Linked DNA regions of Homo sapiens: all the other regions are linked to region 3. Evidence: fine-mapped expression QTL. A gene starts in region 3. Each other region holds a variant in brackets. All regions are shown on one strand. Distances are between the middles of the regions. Region 1 overlaps CACNA1I (calcium voltage-gated channel subunit alpha1 I). Region 2 overlaps CACNA1I (calcium voltage-gated channel subunit alpha1 I). Region 3 holds the start of CACNA1I (calcium voltage-gated channel subunit alpha1 I). Region 4 overlaps CACNA1I (calcium voltage-gated channel subunit alpha1 I).

Region 1 (7,656 bases), 88 kb before region 3:
GATGGCCTAGACTAGAGGAGAGCCCAGGAGAGCCTGGCCACCAACATCCGTCTTGCCTAAAGTCCTCGCCTAGCCCCAGAGGGAACCCTGATCCCCAGGGATCTTGGAAGCCAAGGCTGAGACTCTTCCCTGACCTCCTCCAGCCAATCCCACTCCCCAAATCCATCTTCACCCAGCAGCCCTCAGGAGGCTGCACTCTCCCCTGGAGACCCCCACCTCTGGGCCGGGAGGGTCCGCTGTGGTCTGGGAGAGCGCCACCAATGGCCTTGCCTGGCTTGGCAGAGATCCGTCCCTCCCACGTTACCCCTACTCTAACCCTCACCCCAGGCCTGGCCCTGCCCACCTGTTCTCGGGAGAGAAGAGGTAGACAGACCAGTCTTCGCGGACCTCGCACCAGTCGGGCTTATAGACGTCGATCATCTTGCGGACGCGGAAGCACAGGGTCTAGCAAGAGGAGGACGGAGCGCCGGGGGTCAGCGATGCGCAGGGTTGCCGGTCTCCGCCCATGCGGCCATCGCGCCAACTGGGGTCGCAGGGTCACCTCCGAACTCTCTGCCCCCCGGGGGCAGCCAGGGAGGGCTTCTCTCCCAGGAGCCGGCCCAGCTCAGGTGTGGGCAGTTCTGGCCCCACCCCTCCTGCCTCACACCTGAAGCCCTAGCCGCTCCGGCCACGCCCCGGCCACGCCCCCCGTGGGCCCGCCCGCTCGGGCCCCGCCTCCTGGGGCCGCACCCACTTCTGTCCTATCCCACCGCACCAGGTCCCCTTCGGCCCCGCCCCCACTCACGTAGTCGATTTCCTCCTCATCCTCCCCGCGATCCCCGCGGTCGCCCATCTTGGTGAAGACGTCTTTGGCGATGCTGGGCATCCTGCCATTGCAGTCCTCATGCCCGGGGGCCGGGCCTGCCGCCCTCCAGGCGGCCCGGGGGTGGGCGCCCACCGCGGGCACCAGCTCGGCCAGGTCCACCGAGTCCCTGTTGTCGAGGGACAGCGTCCGGCGGTGGTGGCGGTGGCGGTGCGCCAGATGGGGCCCGTGATGAATGTGGTGGGCGTGTGGGGTGTGCAGGGGTGCGGCCCGCGGCGGCCCCTCGTCCGCGGCAACCTCGCAGACCCGGGCGCCGCCGCCGCGCTCCGCAGAGAGCAGGGACTCATGCTCCGCCGACGGCGGCTTGTGCTTGAGGCTGTTCCAGCTGGAGCGACGGCTGGCCCAGGCCGCGCTGCGGCCCCATGGCCCGTAGTAGGAGCTCCGGGAGCTGGACTGGAAGGAGTTCCCGTTCGGGTCAGCGCCCCACAGGCACACCCACGGCTGGGGCACCAGGTGCCCAAAGGCAGCCTGCACCCCCGCTGTGGCTCTAAGACCACCCACCTGGCCAGCGGGTGATGGAATGGGCTTGACCCTAGAGCTCCTCTCCCTGTCCCACCTCACTCCATCCACATCCACAGGGACATGGGGGCACATCCACCCGGAGGTTACATCCCCTCCTGCCACCTCACTTCCCTTGAGGAAGGTACAGCAAGTTAGGGCCATCTTCCCATTTTGCAGGTAAGGAAACTGAGGCTCAGAGAAGGGCAGTAATTTGCTCCTGGTCACACAGCTTGGAAGTGGCAGAAGGTGGATTCAAGCTGCAGTCTGCCTGACTCCAAAGCCCAGCTCTTTTTACCCTACACATTGTTGCTGAGATGAAAATCCAATTCTCTGCACCAGACCCCACTGGCACTAGGCCTTCATTCGTTCCTTATTGCCAGGTCCCACTCTGGCACTGGGCACCCAGGAATGCAACAGACATGGCCCCTGCCTGACTTTGGCTGGGCACCAGAGTCTGAGGCTAGACTGGCAGGTACCTCTCTTCAGGGCCCCTCCACACACACCCCAGCAGGAAGCGCCCGTCCAGAGCTCCCCACAAGGACTCACCAGGGAGCGCTGGTCATAGCTCATCCTCCCTAGAGACATGACACTGCTCTTTCGGGAGCCCAGGGCCACCAGCATGGGGTCCGGCTGCAGTGAGAGTCGGGGGGCAGGTCCCGCAGCCCCAGCAGGACCTAGGTGCCCACCCAGTGGGAGACTGGGGTCCAGGTGCCCATTGGGGGTCATGGGGATTGGGCAGAGCTTGGGATCTGGAGGAGTGAGATGGAGACAGAGGGAGGGACAGATGGCAGACAGGACAGAACAACAGCAAGGGAGCCACGAGACAGACAAACAAGGAAGGAGCAGAAATGGAGAGCTTTTCTAAGGAGGCTTCCTCTACCAGGAAGTCTTCCTGGTTGCACCCCATCACAGTGCCTCCCCTTCGCCCCACCTGCAGGGCTCTTAGCTTTATTTAGGTATGTGTGGACCCCTTGCCTTCTGTGCTCAGAACCAGCCTGACACCTCACTCCCATGCCCACTATGGGAAACAAGGCAGGGACTGTCCGCCCCAGTTACCGAGAAAGACACTGGGCTAGGGTTGGAGGATGCTTGTTCCAAGATGCCCAGTAGTGCCAGGCAGGACCAGAACCTACACCTTGACCTAAGGCCCCAAGGCTCTAACCAAGGGGCCCTGGTATGTGGAGGGATGTGGTGGGCTGCGGCTACCCCTGTGCCTAGAATCCCAGGGGTCCATGGATGTCACTGACCTCTTTTTGAGATTTCACATTTTTTCCAATTATGAACGTAAACAACAAACCATAGATAAGTAGCAGTCCCTGAGCCTGGGCTTGAGGTGGAGTCAGACGCTGTACCCTCTGCCCACCTGGATCTGTGGAGAAGGCTCTGGGCTCTCTAGGTGACAAGCGAGGGCCTGTTTACCTCCGCTGCTGTCCAGGCCTTCCTGGAGCTTATCAAACTCTTCTATGTTGGATGAGCTCTGGTCCTCGTCCGAGTAGGAGCGATTGGCGTCACCCTGGGAGAGCATCCGTCACGTTAGAATGCAGGTCAGTCCAGCTCCTCCCTTCCCAGCTCCCTCTAGAATTTTTCTATGGGTGTTTCCACCGCCATTTTGCAAATGGGAAAACTGAGGTTTGGAAAAGGGAAATGAGATGCTAACAAGAACCTAGGTCACAACCCTACATCTGCCTGACTGCAAGTATCCCCAGAGCCTCAGAGAACGGAGGGAGCAGGGCCCAGAGTCCCTAATCTTGGGGGATTTCGAATCTCAGAGATGGAGAAGCCTAGTCCTACATCCCTGGGGGGGAGCAGGGATGGCAGACGCAGTCTCCATTTGCATGCTTCCTATGATGAAGAGCTCACCACCTCATCAGCAACCCCCTCCTTTAGGGATAGGTTGCCTGCTAGAAGTTTGAATTGCAGCCCTCCCCCATCCAGGCCACCTCTCCCTCGCCCAGTCTTTCGCAGACCCTGTGGGGGTGCTTCCTCTGCCAAGACCACAGTCACCTCCGCCTGGAAGCCCTCCACCAGGATGGCCACCAGCAGGTTGAAGAGCACATAGTTGCCGAAGGTCATGAGGGCGACAAAGTAGAGGGAGGCCCAGGGAGAAGTGGAGGCCATGCCATTGTAGAGAACGACGTTCCAGTCCTCCTGGGTGAGGATCTGTTGGGGAGACACAGTTAGCCCTGGGGTACCCCTAGTCCAGGGCTAGGCTCTACAAGGAGGCATGGGAGTTGTCAGCCCCGCCCCTCCCAGGCCTACTGTCCCATCGCTTCCCCAGCAAACATGAACACGCAGCGGCCACTCACCTGGAACACAGTGACGATGGCCCACAGCAGGGAGTCGAAGTTCTTCCTGTCGGGCACCGTGTCTCCAGTGTCCGTGCGGAGGCTGAACTTGCAGCCAAAAATATGCATCCCAAGGATGCTGGGGAAAGGATGGAAGAGGCTCATCGGACTCACATGCACCAAACTGCCTACTCACCTTGTTTCATTCTCAGTCAACTCAGTAAAATGCAGGGCAGGGGGAGGCGGGGCAGCGTTGGTCCCATTTTACAGAGATGAACACTGAGGCTTAGGGGTTCATGCTTGCTGAAAGCCACAGGGGACTGAGGAACAGTGTCAGGCTTCACACCCAGGTCCAGGTGGCTTTGTCCAGAGAAGCACAGTGGACCACATCCCCCAGGCTCCCGCCCACAGCCCCAGCAGGTGCTGAGGTATGGCCCCCAGCAGGGCAGGCTCACCTGAAGATGAAGATGAAGAGCATGAGCAGCATGCAGAAGGTGGCCACGTTGTCCATGGTCTTCATGAGCACCACGAGCTGGCGCCGCAGGGCAGGCATGAAGCGCACCAGTTTCAGCACGCGCAGCAGCCGGAAGGTCCGCAGCACCGACAGCCCACCGTCCGCCTGCCCCACAATCTCCCAGATGCTGCGGTCCCGCAGGGCAGGCCCAGGGTACAGGTAGGAGGCAGCAGTAGGAGGCCAGGGGGAGAGGAAGACAGAGGGAG[A/G]AGGGAAAACAGAGAGACAGAGCTTCCATTCATCCATCCATCTGACAAATATGTTGGATGCTGCTCCACGCCACAAGCTAATCAGGGGCTCTTCACTTGGAGTCCATGGACCACCACCACCCCCACAAGAAGTCTCTGGCTAGAATCCGGAGGTCCATGGATATCACTGTCCTCTTTTTGAGATTTAACGTGTCTTTTGGTTATGAATGTAAACAGGAAGCCACAGAGAATTAGCAGTACCTATGGCTTTGTGGCAATCAAAGTAACTGGTGTCTTCACGTCACGTGACAGCCGATGCAGTTGTTTCCCAATATGATTTATGCCCATCCCTTCCTCGGAATGATAGCAGTCACAGACGCGCTGCTAGATCATGCTGTTTAACTTGACAGAAATATGTTGCTAAATCACAAATGTTTGACTATTTCGATAATTGTTTCAGTGCAACGGGTTTCCACAGCCATCTTATGTCCTTTATATGCTGGCTGGGGTCTTTGCAGTAAATGTCCCCCCGAGGCACTCTGCTGCCGGGTGGGTTGGGGGAGGGGTACCTGATGATGACAATGATGCTGTCGAAGATGTTGTAGGGGTTACGCAGGTAGTCGAAGAGCCCAAATGCAGCCAGCTTCAGGATCATCTCCAGGGCAAACATGCTGGTGAAGACCACATTGCAGATCTCCAGGATGTTGGTCAGCTCCTCCGGCTGTGGGGCATTGGGGTGGGGAATGGAGACCCGGTCAGGCCAGAGGGCAGCTGTGGATCCCCTCTGGACACCCACCCTGGCTGTGTGACCCTGGCAGGTCGGTGTCCTCACCATACCTCCGTCTCCCCACTGCCCCATGCACAAGGCCCCGAGGGCCCCTCTCAACTCTGCTACCTTGGGGTCGTGAGAGGTCTGCTGAGATGGTGAGGGTTGGGGGACCCCACAGCGCTGACCTTCCACAAATTTGGAAATGAGGCTTGTAGCACACTACCAGGGAAGTGTTCTGATACGCATTTTACGGATGAGGAAAAAGAGGCTTGGAGGCCAGCCTGAGGTCACACGGCTAAGATGCAGAGCAAGACAGGAAAGCAGGACAGGCGTCGCTAGACGTCACTAACCCATTTAGTGAGCACTTACCACGTGCCGGGAACCGTTCTATGCATTTTACAGCCATCACTTCACTTAGCCCCTCACAAGAACCCGTCTGCAGACAGGCAAGGACACGGGTTCACAGGACGCCAGTCCCTTGCCTGAGGCCACAGAGCTAACAAGTGGTGTGGCCAGGATTTGAACCCAGGCAGCCTGGCTCCAAGACTCCTGCCCTTAACCCCCGCCCATGCAGAACTTTTCTCTCCCCTTCCCAGCAATGGCCGTCTCAGGACCAAGGGTGGCTGGGGACATCGTGCCCCATGAAAGGACGGTGGACACAATGTACCTGCTGCATGCCAGGCACAGTCCTGCACACAGAGCACCCGTGGTGGCTCTTAGCACTCCCAGCAGCTCTCGGAGGAGGACATTCAGACCCAGGGAGGTTAGAGGACCTGCCCAAAGCCACTAGTTGGTCAGAGGGAGACTAGCTCCCTCCCCCAACAGCTGTGGAGCCTCCCTCTGCTCCCAGAGCTGTTTACCCCTGGTTTTTAACTGATATCCTGCAAATGGCATTGTTCAAAGAACCCCAGTGTTCAAAGCAGGCCACACTAGAGGCCACGACTGGGGGCAGTGGGGGAAGTTGGAGGGGTCCGGGTTTGGTTTGGACATTAAGTGGCTGTGTGGTCCTGGGAAAGTTGCTTCCCCCCTCCTCTGGAGTTTAGTTTCCTTATCCATAAAACCACGGGGTCGAGTGAGGAACCAATTCATCCAAGCCTCTCCTCTAAGGCTCCTACGAGGCCCAGCCCCTTCTCTCCCTGCCACGGCTCCCCTGGGACTGATGAAGTGTCTGGTGTGTGCTCACTGTGGTGCCAGGTCATCCCTGCCTGAATCACAGAGAAAGGAAGCACTGTCGTTGAGACCTGATTTGACGCCCAACACAAGTTAGCCTCTCCGTTTTACAGATGAGGAGACTGAGGCTAGGGAAACTGGGAGGGGGAATGACTTGTTCAGAGCCACCTAGCAAGGATGTGGCAGGGCAAAGGCAGGGCACTGAACCAAGCTGGACTCCAAACTGCTCTCCCGTTACACCACATGGGGACTGCAGCCAAATTCATTCATTCATTCATTCATTCATTCATTCCTGCATGGCTACCACAAATTTGAATGACATGATGTGCTGGGCTCGAGCTACCAGGGTGGGCAGTGGTGAGGGAGTCAGGGCACCGTCCCTGCCTTTGAGAAGCTCGTGCTCTGGGGCCAAAGCCCAGTAAACCAAGTTAACAAACCAAGCCAGTGTGTGCTGACGCCAGGAAAGTGGGGGGTGGCTAGGGGAGCGGTGCTAGTGGGGTCAGGAGGCAGCGACATCTCAGCAGAGACCTAAAAGCTAAGAGAGAGCTGGCGCCAGGGAGCAGAGAAGGGTGTGCAGGTGGAGGACCCAGCTGGCTGGGAGGTGGGAGAGCAGAGGACCGAGAGCAGGAGCCCCTCCATCAGCAACGGGGAGCCGCAAGGACCTGACTCCGACTCCATGTGGGTTAAAAGGAGGATGGAAAAAAAAAATAACAACCCAAGCGCCAGCTTCCAGCCTGATGCCTGGGAAAGCTAATAAAACTGCCAGCTCCTCTCAAGCCCAGATGAAAGGAGAAGGCCCATTTCCATCTGTAATTACATCTGACTCAAGAAGTCGTCCCAAAAGAGGAGTAGGACCCTGAGAGGGACCCTCGGTGGGGAGGACTGAGCCAGGGTCCAGATGCTGCTCAGAGCCAGCAATTTGCCAGCCCAGTAAGCGATGTCCGCGGAGATGAAAGCTGTAGGCGCTGACACTCCGTGATGATGATCAGCTGGCTCCAGCCGCGCGCGCCACGCACACACTCCTACCAGGGATGCAGGGAGCCACTGCCATCCAAAAGGTCACCCCGCGCCTCCTCCTCCCTCACAACAGATGTTCCTCCATTCAGCACACCTGTTAATCTTTTTCTAATGGACCATCCATCACTCATGAAAGCATTTCTCCGGGACAGAGACACACAGACGAATATAGACACAGCAAGTGGGAGCCCAAGGAGGAGGGGACATGGAGAGGGAGGGGCGGAGATGGGCAGAGACAGACAGACAGACAGATAGAGACAAGGGAGTGAGGGGCAAAGGTGGGGCATGGAGAGATGGAGACATGGAGACAGGAAAGCAGGGACACGGATGTGAAGAAGGACCAGGACAACGAA
Region 2 (7,656 bases), 110 kb before region 3:
CCCTGAATTCTGGTTTGGGAAGTCTGGGATCTTGGCACCTCAGCCACCCTGGCCAGCTGAGAGCCCATCAGCTCTCAGGAGGGTGCCCAGGAAAGTCACCCCACCCCTGGCTCCTGGGAGGCGTCCCTGAAGGGTACTTGGGGTGGGCTCAGAGTCTTGGGCATCCCTCTTCTGCTGGGCTCCTCATCTCTCTGCCTCCCTCCACAGCCAGTGATGCGAAACCAGGTTCCTGCCACCCTCCATGAGGACCACAACAAAGATGAGCCCATGATGGCAGGCCAGCTTAGTCCCCTGGCCCTGTGCCCAGAGCCCAGCCACAGGCCCAAAGCATAAACAGAACACTGCAGGTAGGGCTGAAGGATAAGTATCAGGAATTCACAAAACGGCTATTGAAGACACCAGGCTTTCCTATGTTTAACATCCCCGTGTATATGAAGATCTGTGGGCTACACACCTCTCAAATTCAGCTCTAGAAAAACACCACAATAATCTGGCAGCTTTCCTTCTGCTTGATGAGAGCCGTGTGTACCCACCTCTTTCCCTTTTCACCATGGCTCCTAGGAAGCTCAGCATGAAGCTTCCTTTAGATGCTTAGGTTTTTGTTATAATTACCTCATCTTTTTGTACTATTTGGCTCTTGATCTTTTATCATTGTTATATCAGGCCTGAGAGTCTATCTCTCATTGTCAGATATCCATCTGGTTCTTTCTGGACTAAATATAATAATCTGGGTAAAAATACTAAGGAAAAAACTCAGCCATCTCCCTCTGAAGCAGATGCCCAAGATGAGGGCTGTGGGGAGCTGGCAGGGCTCCCACCCCTCACCTTGACTGCTGTCATGTTTCAGCCAGGACCGGACAGGGTTGAATGGGATCTCCTCCATCTCACACAGGAAGTTCTCTGGATCCGGCGAGACGGCCGTAGAGGACAAGGGGAAGAAGCATTCGCCCAGGTCTCCCACACGCATGGGCTCAGGTGGGTCCAGCTCACCCTGCAAGGAAAGGGAGGTAGGATGGGGCAGGACTGGGAAGGGGGACAGCTCATGAAGGGTACCTCATGACCTGCTCCACGGCCCCTTGCTTAACTAGGCTACCCTCATGTCTAGTCTGACCTTCCTCTCACCTCCTCTACCTGACCATCTTCCAAAATCCCGTGAAAGGAATCCACCTCCGAATGCCCACTGGATGCCCCAGGCAGTTAGTGACTTCCCCTGGTACAGACCCTGGCCCAGCGAAGAAGCCAGGTCAAGGCTGGCGAAGGCATCAGAAGACAGGCTGAGTGGCCACACGAGTGTCCCATGAGCATGACCTTGGGTGGGTCCCTTCCCTTTGCTGAGCCTGTTTCTGCATCCAAGGAGAGTAACGCCTACCTTCCTAGGCATTCCCTGGCCCCCACATTCCTCAGCCCTGCAGCCCAGAGTGACCCCTTCCCAGAAGAGCCGCCTTAATGCCCCCTCCAAGGCAGATGAACTCGTGCCACCCCGACCTCCAATGACTTGCTGAGTCTGGCACAAAAGACTGCACCCTGCCCAAGTCCAGCTGAGTCCCAGAAACTGTGCATCCTGATATCCTTTGTAGGAGAGCAGTGTAGGGGTGCGGGGAGCTGCAGCAACTGTTACCAATCAGGGAGGGGACCAAAATGACATGGAAGGGACAGGAGGAACTGGCCCCACAGCCTACTCTGAGCTGATGGAGGGCCAGCCTAGGGGGCAGAGGTACCAAGCCCAGGGTATCCCCCAGCTGTCCCTTACACCCCCCACCCCCAGCAGGGCAGGACCACCTTGACCTTGAGATCAGGAGCCCAGGTCTTGAGATCTCACCCCCTAAGACTGCAGGATCAGCAAGAGCCCCCTCCTGGCCTGCAGGCCTCCTCAGACTGACCCCCTGGGGTGGCTTCCTGCTCTGTCATTCCTGGCTGTGTGATGTGAGCATCGCCCCACTTCTTGGAACCATTTCCTCACATGTGAAGTGGGAACAAATCATCCCTGCTGCACAGAGCCGTGCGGCAGACAAACAGGTGGCACGGGCAGAGCGCCTGCACATAGTAGGTGCTTGTGCCTGACGCGACCGCCCCCGCACATAGCAGGTGCTTGTGCCTGACATGACTCCCCCGTTCGCTTCAGCCTCACAGCCCCGCCGGCCAGGGATGACCCCCCGTGGAATGGACCAGAAAATACTCAAAGCAACAAGAAGCAGCCAGTACTGCTGGGTGCCGGGTTGGAGTGCTGGCTGGGCTTGTGGCTGTGTGACCTCAGGCAAATCACTCCACCTCTCTGAGCCCTACTGCCCTCATCTGTCCAACAGGAGATGAAGGCCTAGCACAGTGGGTGCCGTTTACATGGTAGACTGGAAAGACAGGGGGGTCCTGCCTGGGTGGGCAGGGGCCAGGTTTCAAGGACAGACCCGCCTGCTCAGGAGTCCCCAGGGGAGCTGACCTTGCTGTCTTTGCGGCCAGGTGGGCAGGCTGTGGGGTCCTCGAGACTCAGGTCGTCACCCAGCAGGATGGACGAGGACCTGTCTGAGTTCAGGGAGAAGGCCTCCGTCTCAGCCAGCTGCACCTGCAGGAAGAGGGGGTGGCCTCGGGTCACCCAGGTTTGGGATGGGCAGACCTGGGTCCTGGGGCGTGCAGCCACAGGCCTGAGGCTCTGAAGAGAGGCCGAGCAGTGGTCAGAAAGGTCCAGACACCTGCTGGACACGGATGATGTGTCCATCCTGTGCAGGGGCCCAGCCTGGGTGACATGCGATGGTGACACAGTGGCCACCTCCAGTGGAAGCCAGCTCTGAGTGGCCCATCTTGCTACCTGGACCTGAGGGCAGGTGAGTTGCCGTGGGCTGTGAACTCCACAGCTGTCTGCTTGCCCCCAGACCAAGTGCCCGTCAAGACTGGGCTGGACTTGACTCATCTATGGCCCCATGTGGATGACCTGCACAGCGTGTCACAGGCAGGGGACACTGCGGGGCCCAGAGACACCGGAGAATCTGCAGCCACCACAGGGCAGGGATGTGGGGCAGCCCAGTCCTCCAGCTCCTGCTGATGGTTCCTGGGGACCTGCCCTGCAGCCACCTGAGGCTGGGGCCACTCTGGGGGCTGGAACACCCCAGGGAGAGCTCAGGGGCCCACACTGCTGGGGAGAGGGGAGGGGGCTAACTGCGCCTGCTCTGGAGGCAGGCCCATGGGAACCCCTGAGCTGGGTGGGCCTAAGCCCTGAGGTGGAGGCCAGGACAGGGCACCTGGAGGAGGTTGAGTGCCAGGATGATGCCTTGGGGGAAGAGCGGGCAGATGACCCCTCATGTCACAGAAAGGGCAAGCTGTCCTGCAAGTGACACACAGGCTCCCTGCCTGGCACCTGCAGCACACAAGGTGGGGCAGCTGCCCTACCCAAGCACCTACTGTGTGCGGCATGGTGCTGGGGTCGGCAGCTGTGGCCACCACACCACAGGCCCACACCTGGCCCTGACTCAGGGAGCCAATCTGCCCCAGCCATGGAAGCTACGTGTGCCCACGTTGACCCAGCCTGGTCTCTACAGCCCAGAGCCAGGCTCTGCCCTCGGACAGGCCCCCCACCAGGTTTCGTGCTGCCCCTGCCACAAGGGGCCAGGCCTCCCGGGCTGCCATTACCTCTTGCTTGTCGTGGTGACACTTCTTGCAGCCGGCAGGCGAGGAGTAGTGGTGGAAGATGGAGCCCGACAGGTTGTCGATGATGGTCAGCTCCCCCTCCAAGGAGTCCTTGATGATTAAAGAGACGCTGTCCAGCCACAGGTTCTCCTAGGCGGACGGGGACGGGGTGGGGACAGGCGGGATTATCAGCCGGGTCCCGGGGCTGTGGGGTGGGCAGGACACAGCTGCCCTCCCGGTTGGTTCTCTGCGCCCATGGCCTGGGACCGACCCCCTCATCACAGGGTCACCCCTTCTATGGAGCTGAGCAGGGTGGGGCCCAGAAAGACAGAGGTCTCTGTGCAAGGCCTCCCTGGCCCTGCTGCCCATCTGGCCCTGCGGTGCCCCCCCTCTGGCGACCCTC[A/G]CACCTCTCCAGCCCCTGCCCACCTGGGCAGGCGAGTAGCAGCGCCGGCACAAGCCGCCCTCGGTGTCGCCCCCGCCGCCCGCCCCTCCCGGCCCTCGGCCAGGGGCGCCCGGGGAGCCGGTAGGCAGCCTCGGGCCAGGGCCCAGGCCATGGGCCATCTCCAGCTCGAGCTCGGCATCCATCTCGGCGTCCTCCTGCGCCTCCTTGTTGCTGTCGTCCAGGTGCTTCATGAGCACAGCCACCACCACGTTGATGAGCACGAACTGCGCGGTGAGCACGAAGCTCACGAAGTACAGCGGCGACACAAACTGCAGGCTGCTCAGGCAGCTGCGCTCGTCGTGGGTGCAGTCCCGCAGCGTGTCCTGCGTGGCAGGGAGGGCGGTGAGGATGAGGACGGAGACATCCCAGAGGCTGCTGGAGGCAGAGGCCAGCCCAGGGCCACGCTCGGAGGCAGCAAGACCGAGATTCAACCCCCGAGATGGCCCCGGGCTGCCCTGCCCCACTCTGCCTTGTTGCGGCATCTGCCTGCCTCAGCTTCAGCTAAGTCCCCGCATGGACAGACGGATGGCCCAGCGCCCTCTCCTCCTCTCTTGCTCCTGCCCATGTCACCCTCCCCACAGCTGGCCTGCTTCCCCGGGACAGTCAGGCCTGAGAAGGGGCATCTGGGGCTTCCTTCAGGGGCCCCTGGGGAGTAGGGTGCATTCGTGACCAGGGCCTCCCTGTCCTTCCTTTCTGGTTTTTCAGCTCAACCCCCAACCACAAAGCCCAAGAAGACTCCATCACCTTCCCGCCCTGGGCTGAGGAGATTGGCCGCCTCTCCCAGCACCCTGGCTTCCTGCCCCCTTGCTGGGGGCACTGGGGGCTCTGCAGGGTGGGGGTGGGAGGCAGAACAGGCCTACCTCTGCCCTCTCCACCCTAGGGCCCCGGAACCGAGGCCTTACCCCTGTCCTCTGGGAGCCCCTCCCTGCCCTTCCCAGCCCAGCCCGGGTTGCAGCCCAGGCCAGGGAGCCTCTGCCGGGTGACCTGGTCAGCGTGGAAATCACTAGGGGGCCTGGCCCTGGCCTTCAGGCCTGCCTGGGCCCCAGGTCCCCTCCGGAACTGGGTGGAGTTGTCTACCCTAGAATCTGAGCCCTGATCCCAGGCAACACTGGGGGATGAGGCAGTGTAGACAGGGGGCCTGTTCTGGCTCAGCTCTCCCCACTGTGCTGGTCCTGGGCAGGCCCCTCCACTCCTCCGTGCCCTGCATGCCCCTCCCATGTGTGGTGGGGCCCTGGGTGGGCAGAGCCCTGAGCAGCAGGACCAGCATCCTCACTGTCCCAGCACCTGGCTGATTTCTCCACCCCAGCCCGCCCAGGAGTACCTTCATGATCCCGTTCCAGTTGTCACCCGTGGAGACCTGGAAGAGTGTGAGGAAGGCCATGCCGAAGTTCTCGAAGGTGGCATGCCGGCTCATGCCCTCGCACGGGTTCTCGTCGTTGCAGACTGGAAGCGGGGAGGAGGTCAGCCCTGCCCGATGGCGGAGTGCCTGCGGGGCTCACCCTGACCTGGTGCCTCCCGCCTCGCCTCAGAACCCTCATCACACCCTAGGAGGGGCCTGCAGACTGTGCCCAGCCCACAGATAAACTGAGGCTCGGGGAGATGGCACATGAGCTGGGGCTCAGGTTTGGGTGAGTCTGGCTCTGCTCCCCGCCGAAGAATGGGTTTCTGAGAAAGAGGGTGAAATGGGGTGAGGGCCAGCCCCTCGGGGAACCCTGCTTTCTGGAGCCATCCCGGTGCAGGGCGGAGCTCAGCGAGCGCTCTGTTGCTCTTTCCCCTGCCCTGGCCTCTCCACTTGCTGGGGTGGCGCTGGCTCAGGACAGGCACCAACACCGGGGTAGGGAGGGCAGTTTTCCTGGGAGACCAGACAGCTGAGGGCCCTGCTGTAGGCATCTCCCCAATACAAAGACCCTGATGTGACGGGCTCAGGGGTCTCAGGCCTCCCCCGCCCCCCCAGTTCCTCCTGCAGCCCTGCTGCACCCCCACCACGGGCCTGCTCTGGGAGTCACTCACCCAGCTTCCCAAAGAGCTCCACCCCGAGAGCAGCATAGATGAAGAAGAGCAGCATGAAGAGGAGGCCCAGGTTGCCCACCTGCGGGAGGACAGGTGAGGCCGGGTGGGGCTGGGGAGCGGGTGGGGGCGCACCAGGCCTGGGAAGGGTGGAGGCTGGGGCAGTGGGGTTGGGCAGCCTGTGGGTCAGAGCAGCTGTAACATTCCCCCAGGCTGTGTGTCCACGTCTGCCACCCCTACAGGACCTGGAGGGCAGGCTGGGTCCAGCACAGGGCTCAGAATAACAAGAAAACACTTGTGCCACCTTTACCACAAGCTGTCCCATTTCCAGCACTTAAGGTTCATGAGCTCACTTCCTCCTCACAATAATCCACGAACTATCTTTTATCCCCATTCTTCAGAAGAAGAAGGAGACAGACTGAGAGGTGACATCACTTGTCCAGAGTCGCACAGCTAGTAACTGGTAGGACAAGGGTCCAAACCCAGCAGGCTGGCCCCAGGGTCCATGCACACAATCTATGCTACACGCCTTGAGTGGCTACCAAGGTTGAATGGATGGATGAACGAAGGGAAGGGAGAAGGCAGGAGGTCTCAGCTCTAACACTAGCTCCTCTACGAAACCACCGAAATGCACTTATCCCTGTCACTGTCATCTGCTGGTCTGGGAAATCTTCAAGAGCAGGAACACAGCTGCATGAGGTCAGATTTGCCTCCTTGGGCCAGCATGAGGCCTGGCCATAGAGAGGAGGGAAGGCAGGAATCACGCAGGCCCGTGGGCCCCAGAAGCCTCTGCAAACCCAGCCACCCCCATCCCACAGCTCCTGTGGGAGAAAGCGTCCCAGATTCCAAACCTAGTTCAAATCTATCCATGCATTGGAGACCACCTTTAACTCATGCTATGGATAAGATAAGGCTAAAACACATTCTTGCCCTAGAAATGAAATATCTCTTAGAACCCTCAGAAGGCCTTAGAACCCTCAGAAAACGTTCACGTTAACTGCTGAAAAGTAAACCCCATTAATCACCACTCCTCGAGTTTCTCCGCTCCACTCCAGAGCAGGGTTTCCTGGCCAGCCGTTCTACACTGCTAGTGTCTGACTAATTAAATGATGTTCCCTTCATTAATAAAACAAGCACTTACTGAGCACCCGTGAGGCCAACTGTAAGGCCCTGACCGCTGAGAAGGATCTGGCGTGGTCGCGGCTCTAGGAATTCAGCTTTGTGCCCTGCACAGGCCGGCGGGGGCAGCATCTCTTAACCAGGATTGCCGTCAGCTTTTCTATCTGTCCCCTCCCTGCTGTCAGCATCTCAGAGCCGGCAGGGTTGCAGCAGCCTCCTCACCAGCTTCCCTGCCTCCAGCCTCTCCCTCCAATCCATTCTCCTCCCAGCCAGCAGAGCCACCTTCTCAAAGGCAGCTCGGCTGCAGCCTTCCTTGTCTAGAACCCTCCTGTGGCACCTGCTGCCTGCAAGATAAAGCCCAATTCTGCTGCCCTAGCACTGAAGGTGTGCTGTGACCTGGCCCCCAGGGACCCCCCTCCCAGCCTGATCTTCCAATCCCACACACTCCAGCCACACAGAAAACAGCCCCACAG
Region 3 (7,656 bases):
TTCTCAGTGGGGGAAAGAGTCGCCCTTTGCAGGGTCTAGACATGTGAAAGGTCATTTATGGTAGTCACAATGATTGAAGGACACTACTACTATTGAATATGCAAGACAGACAAGACTACAAAGCACCGTCAACCCCCAAATGCCAATGGTGTCCCATTGAGGAGTACAAGCTTAAGCACTGCCCCAGGCCCCCTCCCACAGAGCACAAGAGGGAGTGAAGTTTCCAGCCAGGAAAGAATCCTAGAGGCTTCAGCCCCTGCCCCACCCACACACGCACCCCATCCCAAGCCCCTAAAGCCCACCCTGAGCTCCCCACGACTGAGTCTCTGCTCCAGGGGACAGCCCTATGGACAGCCACGTCTCCTGGGTCTCTGTTTGTGGAACCCTCCTTGGCCCCTCTCCCACCTGACCCAATTCAGCTATGAACTCTCAGGCCAGCAGCGGCTGCAGCCACCGGGTCCAGAATCCTCCAACTCGTAGGCACACAGCATCACAGCCACCAAGTCTTAGGCTCACACACTCTTTGAAACACAGAATTTTGCAGCCTTTGAATGACAGAAGCTTAGAATTTCAGTGTCGCTGAGCCTTAAATCTTAACTTTGAACCCTTAGACTGTCGCAGAAGTTTTCAGTCTGAGTGTCCCAGAGCTGACACCTTTAAAGTTGCTGTGCTTTTGAGTCGCCACATCTCTGGCCTGAAGAGAGTCCGTATCCCACCAGTTAAGGCCGAGACCTGAACCACCTCTATCCCAGTCCAGCCTCAGCAGCCCTGGCCATGGGGATGCCGGGGGAACCCTCGCTCTGCGCAGCTCCCGGGACTGAAAAGTCCCTCCTGATGGAGGGGGGCTGCTTTCTGCCCCACCCCTTGGACCCAGGGCTCTCTCCAAGACAGACAAGAGGCAGGCCCAGCTCCTCCCGAAACCAGTACTCCTCTCCCTCCTGGGCCAGCCCCACTGTTGTCTCCAACCCCAGGCCACAACCCACATGACCTGAGGATGGAGGTGAGAGGGGTGGTGAAAACCAAGGAGACAGTGGCCCCAAGGACTCTGTTTGCCCAACAGGCCAGAAATATGGAAAACTGGGTGGGTTCCCAGGGGCTGGCTCACTCAGTGGTCAGGCGTCAGGGTGCCTGAGATCAAGGCAGCCCCCATGGCGTGTGTGGCTAACACCCTGGGCTCCCAGGGCTGGAAGGGGTGATTCGTCTGCCGTCTCCTTTTTAGGTGGAGGTGCTGAGGCTCAGAGAGAGGAGACTGCCCAGGGTCACACACATGGCAGACAGGACTTGACCACCCCCATCTAGGGGCCTCTCCGTGACACGTGGGCAGCACCCCAGCCAGCCCAGCCAGAGCCCATCAGAGACGCAGCTGGGTCAGACTCCCAGGCCAAGTCCTCTGAGCCATGCCCCTGCCTCCAGCCCAGAGCAGTATTGCCCATCCAGACCCCCTAAGGTTCAAAGAAGCAAAGTGACTTACTCATGGTCACACAGCACCCAAGTGACAGAGCCAGAATCAACTCTTGTCATCTCACCCAGGAAAGGCCCCTGAGACATTGTGAAATTGTCCCCCTGGTCCTCCTACCAGCCTTTCTCTTCCTAAAGGCCCAAAATTCCTGCGGCCGCCCCCTTCTCAGGCCTGGCACTCCTCTGTTCACATGCCACAAGCCCCTGAGGTTTCCCCAGTGCTTTGTATTAAAACTAGCCACGTAGGCTGGGCACAGTGGCTCACACCTGTAATCCCAGCACTTTGGGAGGCCGAGGCAGGCGGTTCACGAGTCAGGAGTTCGAGACCAGCCTGACCAACATGGTGAAACCCCATCTCTACTAAAAATACAAAAATTAGTAGGGCATGGCGGTGGGTGCCTGTAGTCCCAGCTACTCGGGAGGCTGAGGCAGGAGAATTGCTTGAACCTGGGAGGCGGAGGTTGCAGTGAGCCGAGATCGCGCCACTGCACTCCAGCCTGGGTGACAGAGCGAGACTCCATCTAAAAAAAAAAACTAGCCAAATGGGTGGTCCCTGCTTCCCTCTTCCCCGGGCACTCCCTGGGACAGACACCAGCTCTGCCTCTTTGTCCTCAGTGTCCCAGGGCAGATGTCAGTGAGTGCTGGGTGAACTAATTACCGAGCAGACCCTCTCACCAAGCCTGAGACGCTGTGAGCCGTCCCCCAGAAGGAGCAGGGAGGCTCTTAGCCCCCACCCAGCAAGGAACACCCAGTTCTGCATCCCACTCCAGCAGAGACCCGCTGGTTTCCAAAAGTTAGGGGGATCCAGGGCCCACGATCACCTCAGCCCCCTACAGAAGGGAAGCCTGGCAGTCCTGCAGCCAGTCTCAACATCCCAGCCTGCATCTGGCATCCCTGGATTCCAGGGCAGGACTCAGGCCTGCACCTGACCCACCAGCTCCCCGCACCCTGCCCTGTGTGGCCACAAGCACCAGAACCTCGAGCCACATATGGGCATTTTTTGGTGGGACCCTCAAACCACAAGGCCACCATGGCTTGGGTCCCCAAGCCTCCTCCTCAGTGGTCCCCAGCCCCCACTTCACCCTGCAAGCCAGTGCCACACAGTCCTTCCAGAGCACAGATCTCTCCAGACCCTGCTTCAAATCCTGCCCTTGGAGCACAGTCCCATCCCTCATGCAGCCTCCAAGGCCCTGCAGGGCTCCCGCCACACCTGCAGCCTCACCTCACTCCTCTCTGCCCCTCAGGGCTCCAACACTGCCTGCAACTCCTCCCTTCTCCAGGCTTCGCTCCTGCCATGCCCTCCTCCTGCCTCCCACTACCCTCTCTACCCAACCAACGCTCTTCCTTATTGAGGAGTCAGCTCTGGCATTGCCCATGTACACCCAGCAAACACTGCCAGAGCACCCACGATGTGCCAAGCACTGTGCCAGGTGCTAGGGTCCCCATCCCAGTCATCTGACAGTACCCCAGGGGAGGCAAATGTTAGATTCAGAATTCCACAGTTAGATGTGACAGTTAGATATGAAGCAGAGGAGGAATCCCAGAGGGCTTCCCTGAGGAGGTGATGCTTAAGCTGGGATTTTAAGGATGTAGCAAAGGATTTGGCCAGGTCCAGGGGGAAGGGAAAAGCTTTTCAGACAGGGGGAAGAGCCAGTGAGAGGACCCTGAGGCTCAGAAGAGCACAGGGGGGAAGCCAAGTGGTGGGAAGTGAGGCTGGGTGGAACACACAGGCCCTGATGGGTTGGATTAGGACTTTGCTCTGCACCTCCAGGACCATAGCAAATCATGACAGTCTTAAGCAGGGGGAACATGAGCCCACTGGAGGCAGCAAGTGGAGGCAGGAGGCCTGGGAAGAGGCTGCTCGGAGGCACAGTAAGGAGAATGAGTCCTGCCCTGTGTGTTGGGATCGGCTGCCCCGCTGCCCACGCCCACAGTTCCTGATCACGGCTCCCATCCTCTGTATGGTCACGGCCCATCAGGTGGCTCCAGAGTCTGACTGATCTGCATTCCCAGCCCAGCACAGGTCTGGGGCCCACACTCAAGGACTTTCTGAGCCAGCCAGCCACTGGACTGACCCCACAGCCACCAGCAACTTCCAGAACCTTCACATCAGCAGAACACCAGGTCCTCATCCATTTGAGGTCTCCCCAGACCCACCCTCTGAGCTCGCTCACCACCACCAAGGCCCAGTGGCCTCACCGCAGACCTCAGGTCTCCCAGCCGGAGCAAGGTGTGAGCAGCAGGACTCAATCCAGCCCCCCACCCTTCAGCCCCTGCAGGGCCCCGATCAGCCGAGGCTGCGGAGGATATGGGTTGCACACCATCTTGATGCACCAGTTCCGGGGGCTGGTGGTCTGTCGCAGGCAGAAGAAGGCAATAGGCGCCAGGTCTGGGTGTGGGACATGAGGATCAGCTCCATCCAGAGGCTCCTCCAGGCCTGGCGGGGAGGATGGGGGGCTCCGGGGTCCGGGCTGCTCCGTGGTGACTCCTGGCTCAGCGGCTGGGGCTGCTGCAGATGAGGAGGGCGGGGAGGCGCTCTCAGCCATGTCCACACTGAGCTGGGAGCCCTGGGGAAGACAGAGAGGGTGGCACGTGGTGGGGACAGGCCTGGTACATGCTCCCCAACCTGCCTCTCCACCAATAAGTGGACGGATGCAGCTCTGACAGCCCCACCTGAGCCCCACAGGCCCCTCACCCTCACTCTTGCATGAGGATTACGAAACAGCTGAGGGCCCAGCTGCACCCAACTTGGAATCTGCTTCCAAGCTGGGTGATCATGGGGCAAGTCTGCTCACCCTGGCTGAGCCTCAGTTTTGGCAAACGAAGATAGTGGGGAGAATAAAGCCTTCTTAGAATATAATTGTGATATTAACTCTTTTTTTTTTGTCTATTGGCAATTTTCTGTATTTGAAATCTTTCATTATTTAAGAGAAAAAATGTTTAAGTAATTATAGACAGAAAAGAAAGACGGAAGGGAGGGAGAGAGGGAGAGAGGGAGGGAGGGAGGGAAGAAAGGAAGGAAGGAAGGAAGGAAGGAAGGAAGGAAGGAAGGGATCTTAACTTTTTTACAAGACTAGAGCTATGTATTTATTGCACCATCAAAGGTAAAGAAAACTTGCAAGAAAAAAGAGGTGATTGTAAAGACAGACATTATTGCCAGGACAATGCAGGTTACAAAGGCAATGTTGGGGTGCTGCAGAATCAGAGACTGGGGGAACGCTGGCAAGCCAGGAGGGAATCACAGTTGGCTTCCCTGAGGAAGTAACCCCTGAGCTGAGACCTACAGCTGAGCCCTTGACCCAGGGACCTCCCAGCCACTGCCTTACAAGGCTGAGAACCCAGGAATCTTAGAGTCTAACCTCCTTGCCTTACAGATGAAGAAACCGAGGCCCAGAGAAGGGACAGGACAGACATGTAGCAGAGTAACAGCAGAAATAGAATTCCAGTCAAAGGCCAGGCACGTGACTCACACCTGTAATCCCAGCACTTTGGGAGGCCAAGGTGGGTGGATCACCTGAGGTCAGGAGTTTGAGGCCAACCTGGCCAACATAGTGAGACCTCATCTGTACTAAAAATACAAAAATTAGCTGGGTGTGGTGGCACACGCTGTAATCTCAGCTACTCGGGAAGCTGAGGCATGAGAATCACTTGAACCCGGGAGGTGGAGGTTGCAGTGAGCCAAGATCACACCACTGCATTCCAGCCTGGGCAACAGAGCAAGACTCTGTCACCAAAAAAAAAAAAAAAAAAGAATTCCGGTCAGAGCCCGCTTCCTGGGTCTGTGGCTCAGGCAGCTGCACAGGGCCCCGTGCTCAGAAGGGCCCTGAACTTGCTTTAGAATTCTTCTGTCACCAACATGAAATTCTTAATTGCTTATCAAGAGGTCCCACATTTTCATTTTGTTCTAGGTGATGCAAATCATCTTGCTGGCTCCGACTCCAACTCAAAGCACTTCTACTCCCTGGCCTTGTCTGATGCTCACAACAACCTCAGGAGGACTATTATGCCCATTTGGCAGGTGAAGAAACTGAGGCCAAGAGAACAAAGCGGGTTGTCAAGGCTATGCACCCAGCCAAGTGAAGCACTAGGTGGTGTTGAGAGGCCAGAATCCCAGCACCAGACCCCCAGGCGGGCTTCATGACAACTGATGGTGCCCTCGCTGGCCGAGAGCCTCCGCAACCAGTCAATGGCAAGATGGGACGGACAGCCACTCCCAGGGCCTGCCCCTCACCACCTCACCCCAAAGGGTACTAGTCCCTAAAACTTTGTCCACTGGGGTCCCTGGGATCCTAGAACCCCTACAGGGCCAGTCTGAGCCGTGGGATTGAGAGATGGGGTCCACGTCCCTGGTGCCCACCCAGCTGCTGCTGGGCTGTCGACCAAGCCACCCGGAGCTGATGCATTTGGACATTTCTCTGGCTCCCGGGGGCAACGGGCAGGGGTTGGCACCTCCTGCCACTTCCCCTGGCTGGTCAGGGAGGCGGAGTTTTCTCCTGAGCTCAGGGCTTTGCTCTTGATTCCAGAAAAACAGCCACGGGCCTTACATAAGCTCCCAGGCACCTTGGCCTGCCACGTGTCAACCTCCTGGGCTGAAACGCACCCTCCCTAGGGTGGTTCCAGCTCTGCCCACCACCGTGCCAGCCTCGGAGCCCACCACTCCCTCCCCTGGCCATTTGCTCTGGCCAGATTGGACCTCCTCAGGTCCTAGGCCCTGCTCCCGCTCTTCCCTCTCACTGGGGCACCTTCTCCTTCCGCCCAGGCCCTGTTCTCCCAGGCCCTACTGATTCATTCATTTGCCCAATGAGCACCTACTATGTGTGGGCACTGTGTGGGCTTCGGGCTATGCTGGGGCACGAGCCAGACTCAGCACCAGCCCCCATTCAGCCCACACTTCCGCAGAGGAGAGAGACACACCGATCAATTAATTTCTCTCTTTCTGCTTTTCCACAACTCTTATCACCATCAAACACGGTGCATAATTTATGTCTTTATATCTCCATGATTTGGTGTCTGTCTCCCCAGCCTAAGAGAAGCCTGTAAGGGAGGTGTATCCCCTCACTGCTGTATCCCCAGCACCTGGAATGGTGCCTGGAGCATACTAGGTGCTCAATCGATATTTGTTGACTCAGTGAATAAAAAGTGCTGGGAAGTAAATAAACAAGGGGAAAGGTGGGAGTGGAGACAATCATCTTGCCCTCTCTAAAGGAAGAGATGTTTAAGTGAAAACCAAGACGCGGGAGGCCGCAGCCCTGACTGATCTGCTGGAAGAGCACAGGAGGAAGAGCACGTGCGAAGGCCAGGAGAATGGGGCCCGCTCGGTGCATTTAAGGAACACAAGCGAGGCCGAGCCTCGGGCAGGGAGGCGGATGAAACCAAAGAGTTCAGCAGGGCCCTGGGGGAGAACACAGAGGAGCGTGGGTTTTATCCCAAGTTCAGTAGAAGCCACAGGTGGGTTTTAGGCAGGGGAGTGGTGTGCTCTGGTCTGTTTCTAAGCCATCTCTCCAGGGGCTGAAGGGAGAGTGGATGAAGGGGAAGGGGTGGAGCAGGAAGGGCTGGGAGGAGCTGGGCTGGCCTGCCCTTGGCTGCTGGTGAAGACAGGGAGAAGGCGGTGGATTGAGATTTATTCTCGAGGTAAAGCACCTGGTCTCGCAGCAACTGCAGTGGCCCACCTGCAACCCTCGCCCCAGCATTACCGAAGTCCTTCCTGAAACCACACAGGTGGAAAGAGCTCCCCCGGCCTCCGGGACTGCACAAAACTACCCACTTCCTGCCTCTGGGCTACGTCGCTTGCACTGACTTGCTTGTTGCCTCTCTTGGCTTGTTTAATGCCGCCACACTGTGCTGCCCTCTGTGCTCACACCTCTCCCCTCACTGTGGTGCTCCCAGAAACCACACCCCTAAGGCCACCACCCTCAACTCTCTCCCCAGTGTCCACCCAGCCTCCACCCTCTGACCTGCTCCCAGCGGCCACCCAGCCTCCACCCTCTGACCTGTTCCAGTGACCACCCAGCCTCCACCCTCGGACATGCTTCCAGTGACCACCCAGCCTCCACCCTCTGACCTGTTCCCAGTGACCACCCAGACCATCTCCCTCTGACCTGTTCCTTAGCAGCTTCCCAGGCCACTACTCCCTGACCCACTCCCCACTCCCAAAGCCCCCAAGTCCAGTCCAGATATCTCTCTTTCCTGTGTCTGTGG
Region 4 (7,656 bases), 120 kb before region 3:
CATCTGTTGTTTCCTGACTTTTTAATGATCGCCATTCTGACTGGCATGAGATGGTATCTCATTGTGGTTTTGATTTGCATTTCTTTAATGACCACTGATGATGAGGTTTTTTTCATAAGTTTTCTTTTGAGAAGTGTCTAGGAACATTCCTAATGCCACTGAACTCTACACTTAATAAGAATTAAAATGGTAAATTTTACGTCATTTGTGTATACTTCACCACAGTTTCTTAAAAGGCTAATTTTTTTCAGGGAGGAGCTGAGAGTCAGAGGGTGGGAACAGCCTGGAGTGACAGGGAAGTTTCTCGAGACAGTGACGCCTAAGTGGGGGCTTGAAGGGTGAAGAGCCCAGCAGAGGTGGGAGAAGGGCAGAGCAGGGCAGGTCAGCATGGCTGGTCCATGAAGCCACGCTGGGCAGTGGGTGAGGACTGGAACGCCCAGAGCCCTGCAGGCATCGGGCAGGTCCCGGGAGCCATGGAACCACTGAACTGAGCTGCAGAGGTGGGGTCAGCTGGTGTTTCTCCTTCACCAGGCTCCCAGTGAGAAGGGATTGAAGGGGCAAAGTGGGCGGGCAACCCAAAAGCAGCATCCCAGGAGGACAGGGCAGGGGTGCCAGGCAGGCCATCGGGCAGGGGTGCCGGGCAGGCGATCAGGCAGGGCACGGCCCCTCATGGCCCAGGGAAGTCACCCCCCACTCTCTGACAGGCTTGCCAACTTCACAAAGAAGAATAAGGACAGTCAGTTAAATCTGAATTTCAGATAAGCAACAAATAACTTTTTAGTGTGACTATGTCCCAAATACCGCATGGGACCTGTTCACACTGTAAACGTGTTCCTGGCGTGTTCAATGTTCTCATGTAGCCAGGTGCCCTGGGTCTCATCTGGACGCTGCCCTCTGAGACTCCTGCCTCTCATCTGGAAAGCCGGTGGTCACTGCCTCAGCAAGGCTCTCCCCTCTGGTTCTTCAGGAATCCCCAGCCAGTCCTCCCGGACCACCCAGCCAGGAAGACCCCCACCCCCAGCCCCGGTCACGGTCACTCCACCGGCTCTGCTGCCTTCTTGGCACTTGCAGGCTCTGAAACGGCCCAGCTGTGTGCCTGTCTGTCTGGAATCTTTCTCCCACTCTGAGGTGCGGGCTCCGTGAGCACAGGGACCCATCACCACTGTGTCCCCAGCACCTAGCAGAGGCTGGGCGCGCGTGGGTGTGCAGCCATGATTTACTGAAGATGACACAGATGCCTCCCTGGAGGGGCAGCCTGAGGGGAACAGGAAGATGAGGGTGAGTGGGGCGGGGCCCCGTGCAACTGCTGTTTCTGCCCCACCATTCCCCTCCTGCTGATGACCGGCCCCCTCTCCTCTGAGGCTCAGGCTGGCCTCTGCCCAGGGGACGAAACGCCCCTAGCTCTGTGCAGATGTGGGCCGGCAGATCCGCACCAGCCCGGCCTGGCCCTACCCCCACCCCTCCCGACAGGACCAGCCTCCTCCTCCACAGATTCCCACGGCAGCCTGTTACCATGGTGACAGCAATCGGAGGTCACTGCGCTAGAAACCGGAGGATGCCTCCCTCCTGGAGCACAACAAGAGTCAGAATCTAATTTTCATTATAGCCATAATAGTGGTTTTGCATAATCTTACATATATTAATACCTAACATGCCTGTGTTTATTTGGTTAAAATTCATGAATTCGGGTCTAAATAAAAAGTGCTGATGGCTGAAGTTTTTCATTCTCTTAAAATGTTCTTGTGTTATTTTTTTTTTTTAAAGCCAGTCTCTCTCCTTGGCAGCAACTTGCTTTTAATCCCATTATTAACGGGGAAGAGAGAGGATGACAAATCAGGGTTCTCCTCCCCAGGGGCCGAGCCTCTGGCTGTGGAGGTGGCATGCAGGTGCCCGTCACCCCTAGCCTCTGCCTCGCTGTGTGGCCCAGACCACACCCTGCTGCCATTCCAGGCCTGTTTCCTCAAGTGGAAAAATAAGATAAGGTGTTAGTTGGTCTTTGAAATCCCTTCTGCTTCCAAAACACAGCCACGGAGCTGACATTTGCTGAATCTCAACCTGCACCAGGCTCCGGGTGGGAGGAGTAAACACAGTCCCTGTCCTTGGGTCAGCGCAATCTGATGGGGACTTACTCAAGAAACAGTGCAGGCTGGGCATGGTGGTTCATGCCTGTAATCCCAGCACCCGAGGCGGGTGGATCACCTGAGGTCAAGAGTTCGAGACCAGCTGGCCAATGTGGCAAAACCCTGTCTCTACTAAAAATACAAAACTTAGCCAGGCATGATAGCAGGCGCCTGTAATCCCAGCTACTCAGGAGGCTGAAGCGGGAGAATCGCTTGATCCTTGCAGTGAGCTGAGATCTTGCCACTGCACTCGAGCCTGGGCAACAGAGCGAGACTCCGTCTCAAAAAAAAAAAAAAGAAAGAAAAAGAAATAGACAGTGCCAAACGGTGAACAGATTATTCTTCCCACGTGACCCTCTCGCCCGGGTCCAGCAACTCAGCCACAGCAGCAGAGTATGGGAACCAGGCCTGCCTCCTCCCCAGCTCCACAGGCCCCCAGCCACCCAGCGGCCATGAGAGCACCCTGCCATGAGCATTGTTCTAGGTCCCCGACGCCCCAGGCCCCATGCCTGAAAATGGGGGAGGAGACACTGCCACCCCTCCCTTGAGAGAAGCCTCAGCTTGACACCCACCCCGCTGGGGAAAGAACAGCAGAGACACACGGAGAAATTCTTAAATAGGCTTCTGGGCTTTTATTCAAAACAACACTGGTGGTGGCTGCCGCTTGGTTTCTCTACACCCGGGCCATGGGCCAGCAGGTACCAGCGCCATCAGCAACTAGGAGGGAAGTTCATTCACACCATAGAAACTGTACAGCGACTGAGAGTGCTAGAGTCACGGCGGCGGCCCAGGCCGAGGGCTTTCTGGAGGAGGTGGCCTCTGCCTCCTCAGTAGGCTGCAGCTTGGCCCAGGCTCTGCCAGGAACACTGATTATTGCACAAAGACAAAAAAGAGTATGTGTATCTGGGCTAAAGAGCAGCTTCTAAGACCCCAAGCCCTTACACAACGCAGCAAACGGGGCTGGGGTTGGCCCTGGAAGCGGAAGGCTCTGAGCTGAGGATTTGGGGGAAGACAGCAGACGGGCTTTACACACTTTGTCCTCCTTTAAGGGGCTGCCTGGTGCCGGAGAAGGTAGAGCAGGGGAGAGGAAGAGGATTTGGCCAGACTGGGCCGTCTCTGCACAGATGCCAAGGTGCCTGCCCACCACCGCTCTACGGAGCCCAGCAGACAGCTCAGG[G/A]ACCTGGGTCCCCACTTTCCCCACAGCCAGGCCCATGTGGGTTAGGGCAAGTTTGTGCTTTTGTGATAGACACAAGCCTGAGGCCATGGCCCCAGACCACAGGGTTGGGGAGGAAGGAAGGGCCCTTTGCCCAACCCTCACCCATGTTGACTTGTCCTGGCCAGTGGATCACAGCTTCCCTGGTTCTCATCTCTGTCACCCACAGGAACAAGGTCAAGTGCCTGGGATCGGCAGGTGGGGCCTCCAGGAGCCTGGGACGGGCCAGGCCATCTCCCAGTGCTCCCTGCAAGGAGCTTCTCTGCCTCTGAGCTCAGCTCTTCCACCTTCTCCACACTCCCTGCTCTGTGGACCCTGGAGCCTTCGCTCATGCCCATCCCTTTGCCTAGAACACCTGCCTCGAGGTGTCTGCTTGCAGAGTCACACGGTTCAGGGTAAGGGGAGGTTTCACGTCAGACCTGCCTAGGACGTGTTCCCTGCTCAGCTGCTCTGAACCCATGTGACAACAGGAAAGGCTGCTCAGTGGAGTCGCAAGATGACCTGAGGCTGCTTGACTGGTGTCTGATCCTGTTAACTTGAAGCCCAACCTTCCACATGGTATTCCCAGGCCACACAGCCCCTCTTCTGGGCTCCAATACACGTGTCCCTCCAGCAACACGCGGACTTGCAAAAAGTCAAGTCTGTCTGCTTCCCTCCAACTGCGAGAGCTCAGGGTCAGCCAGGAGCAGTCAAGCCTGCCCAGCTCCACTTCTTCCCCAGACAAGGTACCTCGTTCCACATAAAACCACCTCTGTGGAAAGGGAGGCAGGGCTGAGGCTCTCTGGAGCGGGCAGTGTTGGGCTTGGACCGAGCCATCCCCACAGGTCTACCTGCCCCCAGGGAGGACTGGGCAGTTCCTTCCGCCACAGGCACCTTGCTCAGCATCACAGCTCTAGGGTGTGGAGTAGGGCCCTCCACACCACCCCAGCTTCTTTGCTGCCAGGGCCCTGAAGCATCCTGGGCTGGCTGCTTCCCCTCTCCAGGGCTCAGTTTCCCGGGTGGGCTTGACAACCCCTCCCGGCCCCCTCTCCCTCAGCCCAAAAGGGAAGGGCGCACCCCACACCCTCACCAGCCCGGCCACAAGCTGAGTTCTTCCAAGTCAGAGTTTGGGAACAAGAACAAGGCCCCCCCTTGGCAGGCCCCCCTGAAGCCCTCGGAGGGGGTCTTAGCAAAGGCAAGGTTATTGCTGAAGTACAGCATCTGCAAACTCGTGGCCCCTGCAGCCTCTCCAGATCACTGCCACCAACATGCTCCCAACCTCCTTCTTCAAACTGACTTCATGAAAGTCACTCCCTTTTTAAAAAGTAGCCTTGACCTAAGCAAAATGTCTGTGAAATCACGGGTTCAATGCATTTTTTTCCCAATAAATAGTGAAATAAATGCGTAACTCTTCAAATCAAACACCCAAGTCTAGAACCCGTTTGGGAAGCACTGCTATAGTGAAAGCTGAGCTGCAGTTAGGGGCAGCGGGGAGGAGAGACAGGGGCTGGCAGGTGGGGTGGGAAGATGTGGCCTCCAGGTGACGCGAAAGGCTGGGCATGGGGATGCGGCTGGACCCAGGGCCCAGGCAGGTGCCCCCACCCCTGCCTAGAATTCGGTCAGAGCTGCTTTGCCTTGAACCTACTGGGGCGGGGGCATAGTTGCTCAGGACGGGGACAGCACAGTGTCCAGGAACAGCCACAGCTCAGCGCCCATATGGGGGATAAAAGGCATTAGTGGCTGAACAACTAACTACCTGAGCCCAGGGGCACCTGCAGGGCAGCTGGAGCCAGCCGAGACCAGGCGGGTACCCTAGCCCCTCCAAGCAAGCCACTGCCGGCTCAGTCTCCCGCACCCTTCCTCTGCAGGCTGCCTCCACTCCTGCTCCACCCACCCCCGCCCTCCTGGGGGTGGAACCCACCCCCTCAGAAGTGCTCAGGAGCTGGGGACCTCACCTGGGGCCAGAGCCCCAGCTCAGCCTTGGAGCTGCTCTCCATCCCCTACCCCAGGCCTAAGGAAACACAGCTACTCACCCCTGATTTTTCTAAAGAGAGACATCTAACCGGTGGACTAAGGGGATGTGTGTGCTCTGGGGTGTCTACGAAAGACTTCACAATAACGAGACAGTCAGGATGACAGGACAGACACCCCGACACGTGGGAGCCACGTGGGATCTTAGCAGCGTTTCTTCTTTAAAGGAAAAAAAACACACACACACCCTGAATTGCACCTCTTCTCCAGGGCCTGGTGCCCTCAGAGGCCTGAGGGTCCTCTCCAAGCTACTCTTAACCAGGGAGGAGACATCAAAAAACACAGCTGGGACGCCCCCGCAGGACATGTGCCCTGGGGTGGGTCTGGCCAGAATCCCAGAGCATCAGACAAAAGCCCCGTCCAGGCCCTGGCCCACCTCCCACCTTTAGCACTTTCTGGAAGTCATAAGCTCTCAGTAAAAAAAATAAATATATATATATATGTCTGTCTATGTGTGTGTGTATACACATATATATATATATATATATATATATGCATATATATATATATATGTATGTATATGCACTGGAAGGGCCACCATGGGCCACGCAGGCCTGGCTAACCCAGACTCCGCTCAGCCCGGCTGTCGGGCGCCTGTGCCCTGCGGGCCCTGCGCGATCCCAGGTGTGGACGAAGTATTGCTGTCTGCTCCTGGCTCCTGAGGTAAAGAAGGTGAGACGGGGCGGGCGGTGGGCGGCCGGGGGCCCCTGCGACCCTCATCTCTTCCTCTTGCTGGCGGCGTCTCCCGGCTCCAGCTCTCCGGGGAGCGGTTGCGGCGGGGGCGCCAAGGGGCCCAGGCCCATGGGCAGCGGTGCCCGGCCGGGGGGGTCCTTGCTGCGGTCCGCGGCCCACGAGGGGCTCCGGGCCAGGCCGTGGGCCAGGGCGGCGGCGTGGGGGCGGCCGGGGGCGGCCAGGCTGCTGGTGCTGCTGAACTTCCTGGCGGGCGTGAGGCCGGGGGCTGGCGGCGGGGGCGGCGGGCAGAAGAGGGAGGTGAGCGAGAGGCTGCTGAGGGTCTCCGAGTGCTCGCTGCCCGCGCCCCCGCCGCCCGCGCCACCGCGGCCCTCCTCGTCCGAGGGGTCCATGGAGTCGTGGTGGGTGCAGCCCGGGCTGGTGGAGCCCCCGCTGCTGTGGCTGCGCTGATGCGCCCGCAGCCCCCGCAGGCTGAAGAGGCCCCGGCCGCGCAGGCTCAGGCGGCGGCGAGCGGCGGGGGACAGGCCGGCCCGGGGTCCTGGAGCAGGCGCGGGCGGCCCCAGGGCACGCCGGGGGCTGTCGCTCAGGGTCAGGCTGTCCTCGAGCGTGGTCTGCAGGCTGCCCGCGGAGCTGCTGGGGCTGGCGTCCAGCGACGTGTCGCTCCCGGTGGCCTGGGGGGAGGTGGGAGCCGTGGAGGCCGCCTGTGTCGGCCCCCACCCCAGCAACCTGGACGCCGCCCTCCCCCGCACAGCAGGCAGCAGGCAGACCCCATCCAAGGAGCTCCCTTCGGAGCAGGGCTTCTCCCCTCCGCACGTCCAGCTTAGGCGGCGTCACCGCAGGGCCTTCACCTGCCCCGAGAGGTCCCCCGAGAGGAGCTAGCATCCGCCTCAAACCCAGGTCAGACCCGGCCCTGCCCGTCACAGAAGGCTCCAGGCTCACTCCAAGGGGAAGCCCTGGGCCCACCGCCCTCCCCCAGGGCACGTGGCACCCCCACCGCACCCCCCATGGTCTGACGCGGCCCCAGCCTTGGCTGCTCCCACTGGTTCCGGTCCCTCCCACTTGCTCCGGCCCCTGGCCCCCACCTCCCGGCCCCGTGGGCCCCCCACCTCCCAGCCCCAGAGCCCCCCACCTCCCAACCCCGGGGCCCCCCACCTGCAGCCCCTCCCCAGGAGCTGTTCTCCCTGCCTGTCCACCATGGAGTAGACTTTACTCTGCAGACATTTATTTTGGTTATCATCCCTCCTGCACCCAGGCAGCTCACTCTCAGCACTAAACAGTGAGCCCGGCAGGCAGGGAGTTTGTGTCCTGCCCGCCAGAGCACACAGCCTGGTGTGACGGGTCAGACAGTCACCCAGTGAATCAACTGCACTCACTGTGGGAGCCGGCCCGGCCCCATTTCCCCACCCCCACAGCGGAGCCCTCAGTGCTTCAGACCTCTGTGTGCCCGTGGGTAGGAGGGCTGTGGCCCTGGCCAATCCAGTACGGGGGACCCTGCAGCCCGAGGCTTCTCATCCACCAGACCCGCCCTCCCACCTCCATTCCTAGTAATCAAGCCCCCACTCACACCCACCCAGAGCACCCAGGGTGTCCTCCCCACTGCCAGCACCCCGCCACCCTGCAAAA

What was found. PIP is the estimated chance that this variant, and not a neighbour inherited with it, causes the effect.
Region 1: its variant is fine-mapped to the expression of CACNA1I in whole blood (TOPMed, PIP above 0.99). The same link has a PIP of 0.9 or more in blood mononuclear cells.
Region 2: its variant is fine-mapped to the expression of CACNA1I in whole blood (TOPMed, PIP above 0.99).
Region 4: its variant is fine-mapped to the expression of CACNA1I in whole blood (INTERVAL, PIP above 0.99).

Annotation. Positions count from the first base shown.
Region 1 is chr22:39,655,564-39,663,219 of GRCh38, reverse strand. It overlaps CACNA1I (calcium voltage-gated channel subunit alpha1 I), which reads right to left. Exons shown (of 37, transcript NM_021096.4): 11 at 4,917-5,068; 12 at 4,104-4,289; 13 at 3,670-3,787; 14 at 3,368-3,523; 15 at 2,783-2,876; 16 at 1,910-2,112; 17 at 785-1,255; 18 at 344-444. Among named protein-coding and RNA genes, the nearest start is that of CACNA1I, 89 kb to the right of the region's middle. RefSeq lists a silencer at 643-762 and an enhancer at 6,829-7,330. The variant A/G (reference allele first, on the strand shown) is at 4,369.
Region 2 is chr22:39,675,831-39,683,486 of GRCh38, reverse strand. It overlaps CACNA1I (calcium voltage-gated channel subunit alpha1 I), which reads right to left. Exons shown (of 37, transcript NM_021096.4): 30 at 6,068-6,146; 31 at 5,379-5,500; 32 at 4,042-4,380; 33 at 3,619-3,765; 34 at 2,435-2,557; 35 at 826-991. Among named protein-coding and RNA genes, the nearest start is that of CACNA1I, 110 kb to the right of the region's middle. The variant A/G (reference allele first, on the strand shown) is at 4,019.
Region 3 is chr22:39,567,101-39,574,756 of GRCh38, reverse strand. It overlaps CACNA1I (calcium voltage-gated channel subunit alpha1 I), which reads right to left and starts at 4,004. Exons shown (of 37, transcript NM_021096.4): 1 at 3,769-4,004. The coding sequence starts at 4,004.
Region 4 is chr22:39,684,809-39,692,464 of GRCh38, reverse strand. It overlaps CACNA1I (calcium voltage-gated channel subunit alpha1 I), which reads right to left. Exons shown (of 37, transcript NM_021096.4): 37 at 2,730-6,704. The coding sequence ends at 6,060. Among named protein-coding and RNA genes, the nearest start is that of CACNA1I, 120 kb to the right of the region's middle. The variant G/A (reference allele first, on the strand shown) is at 3,298.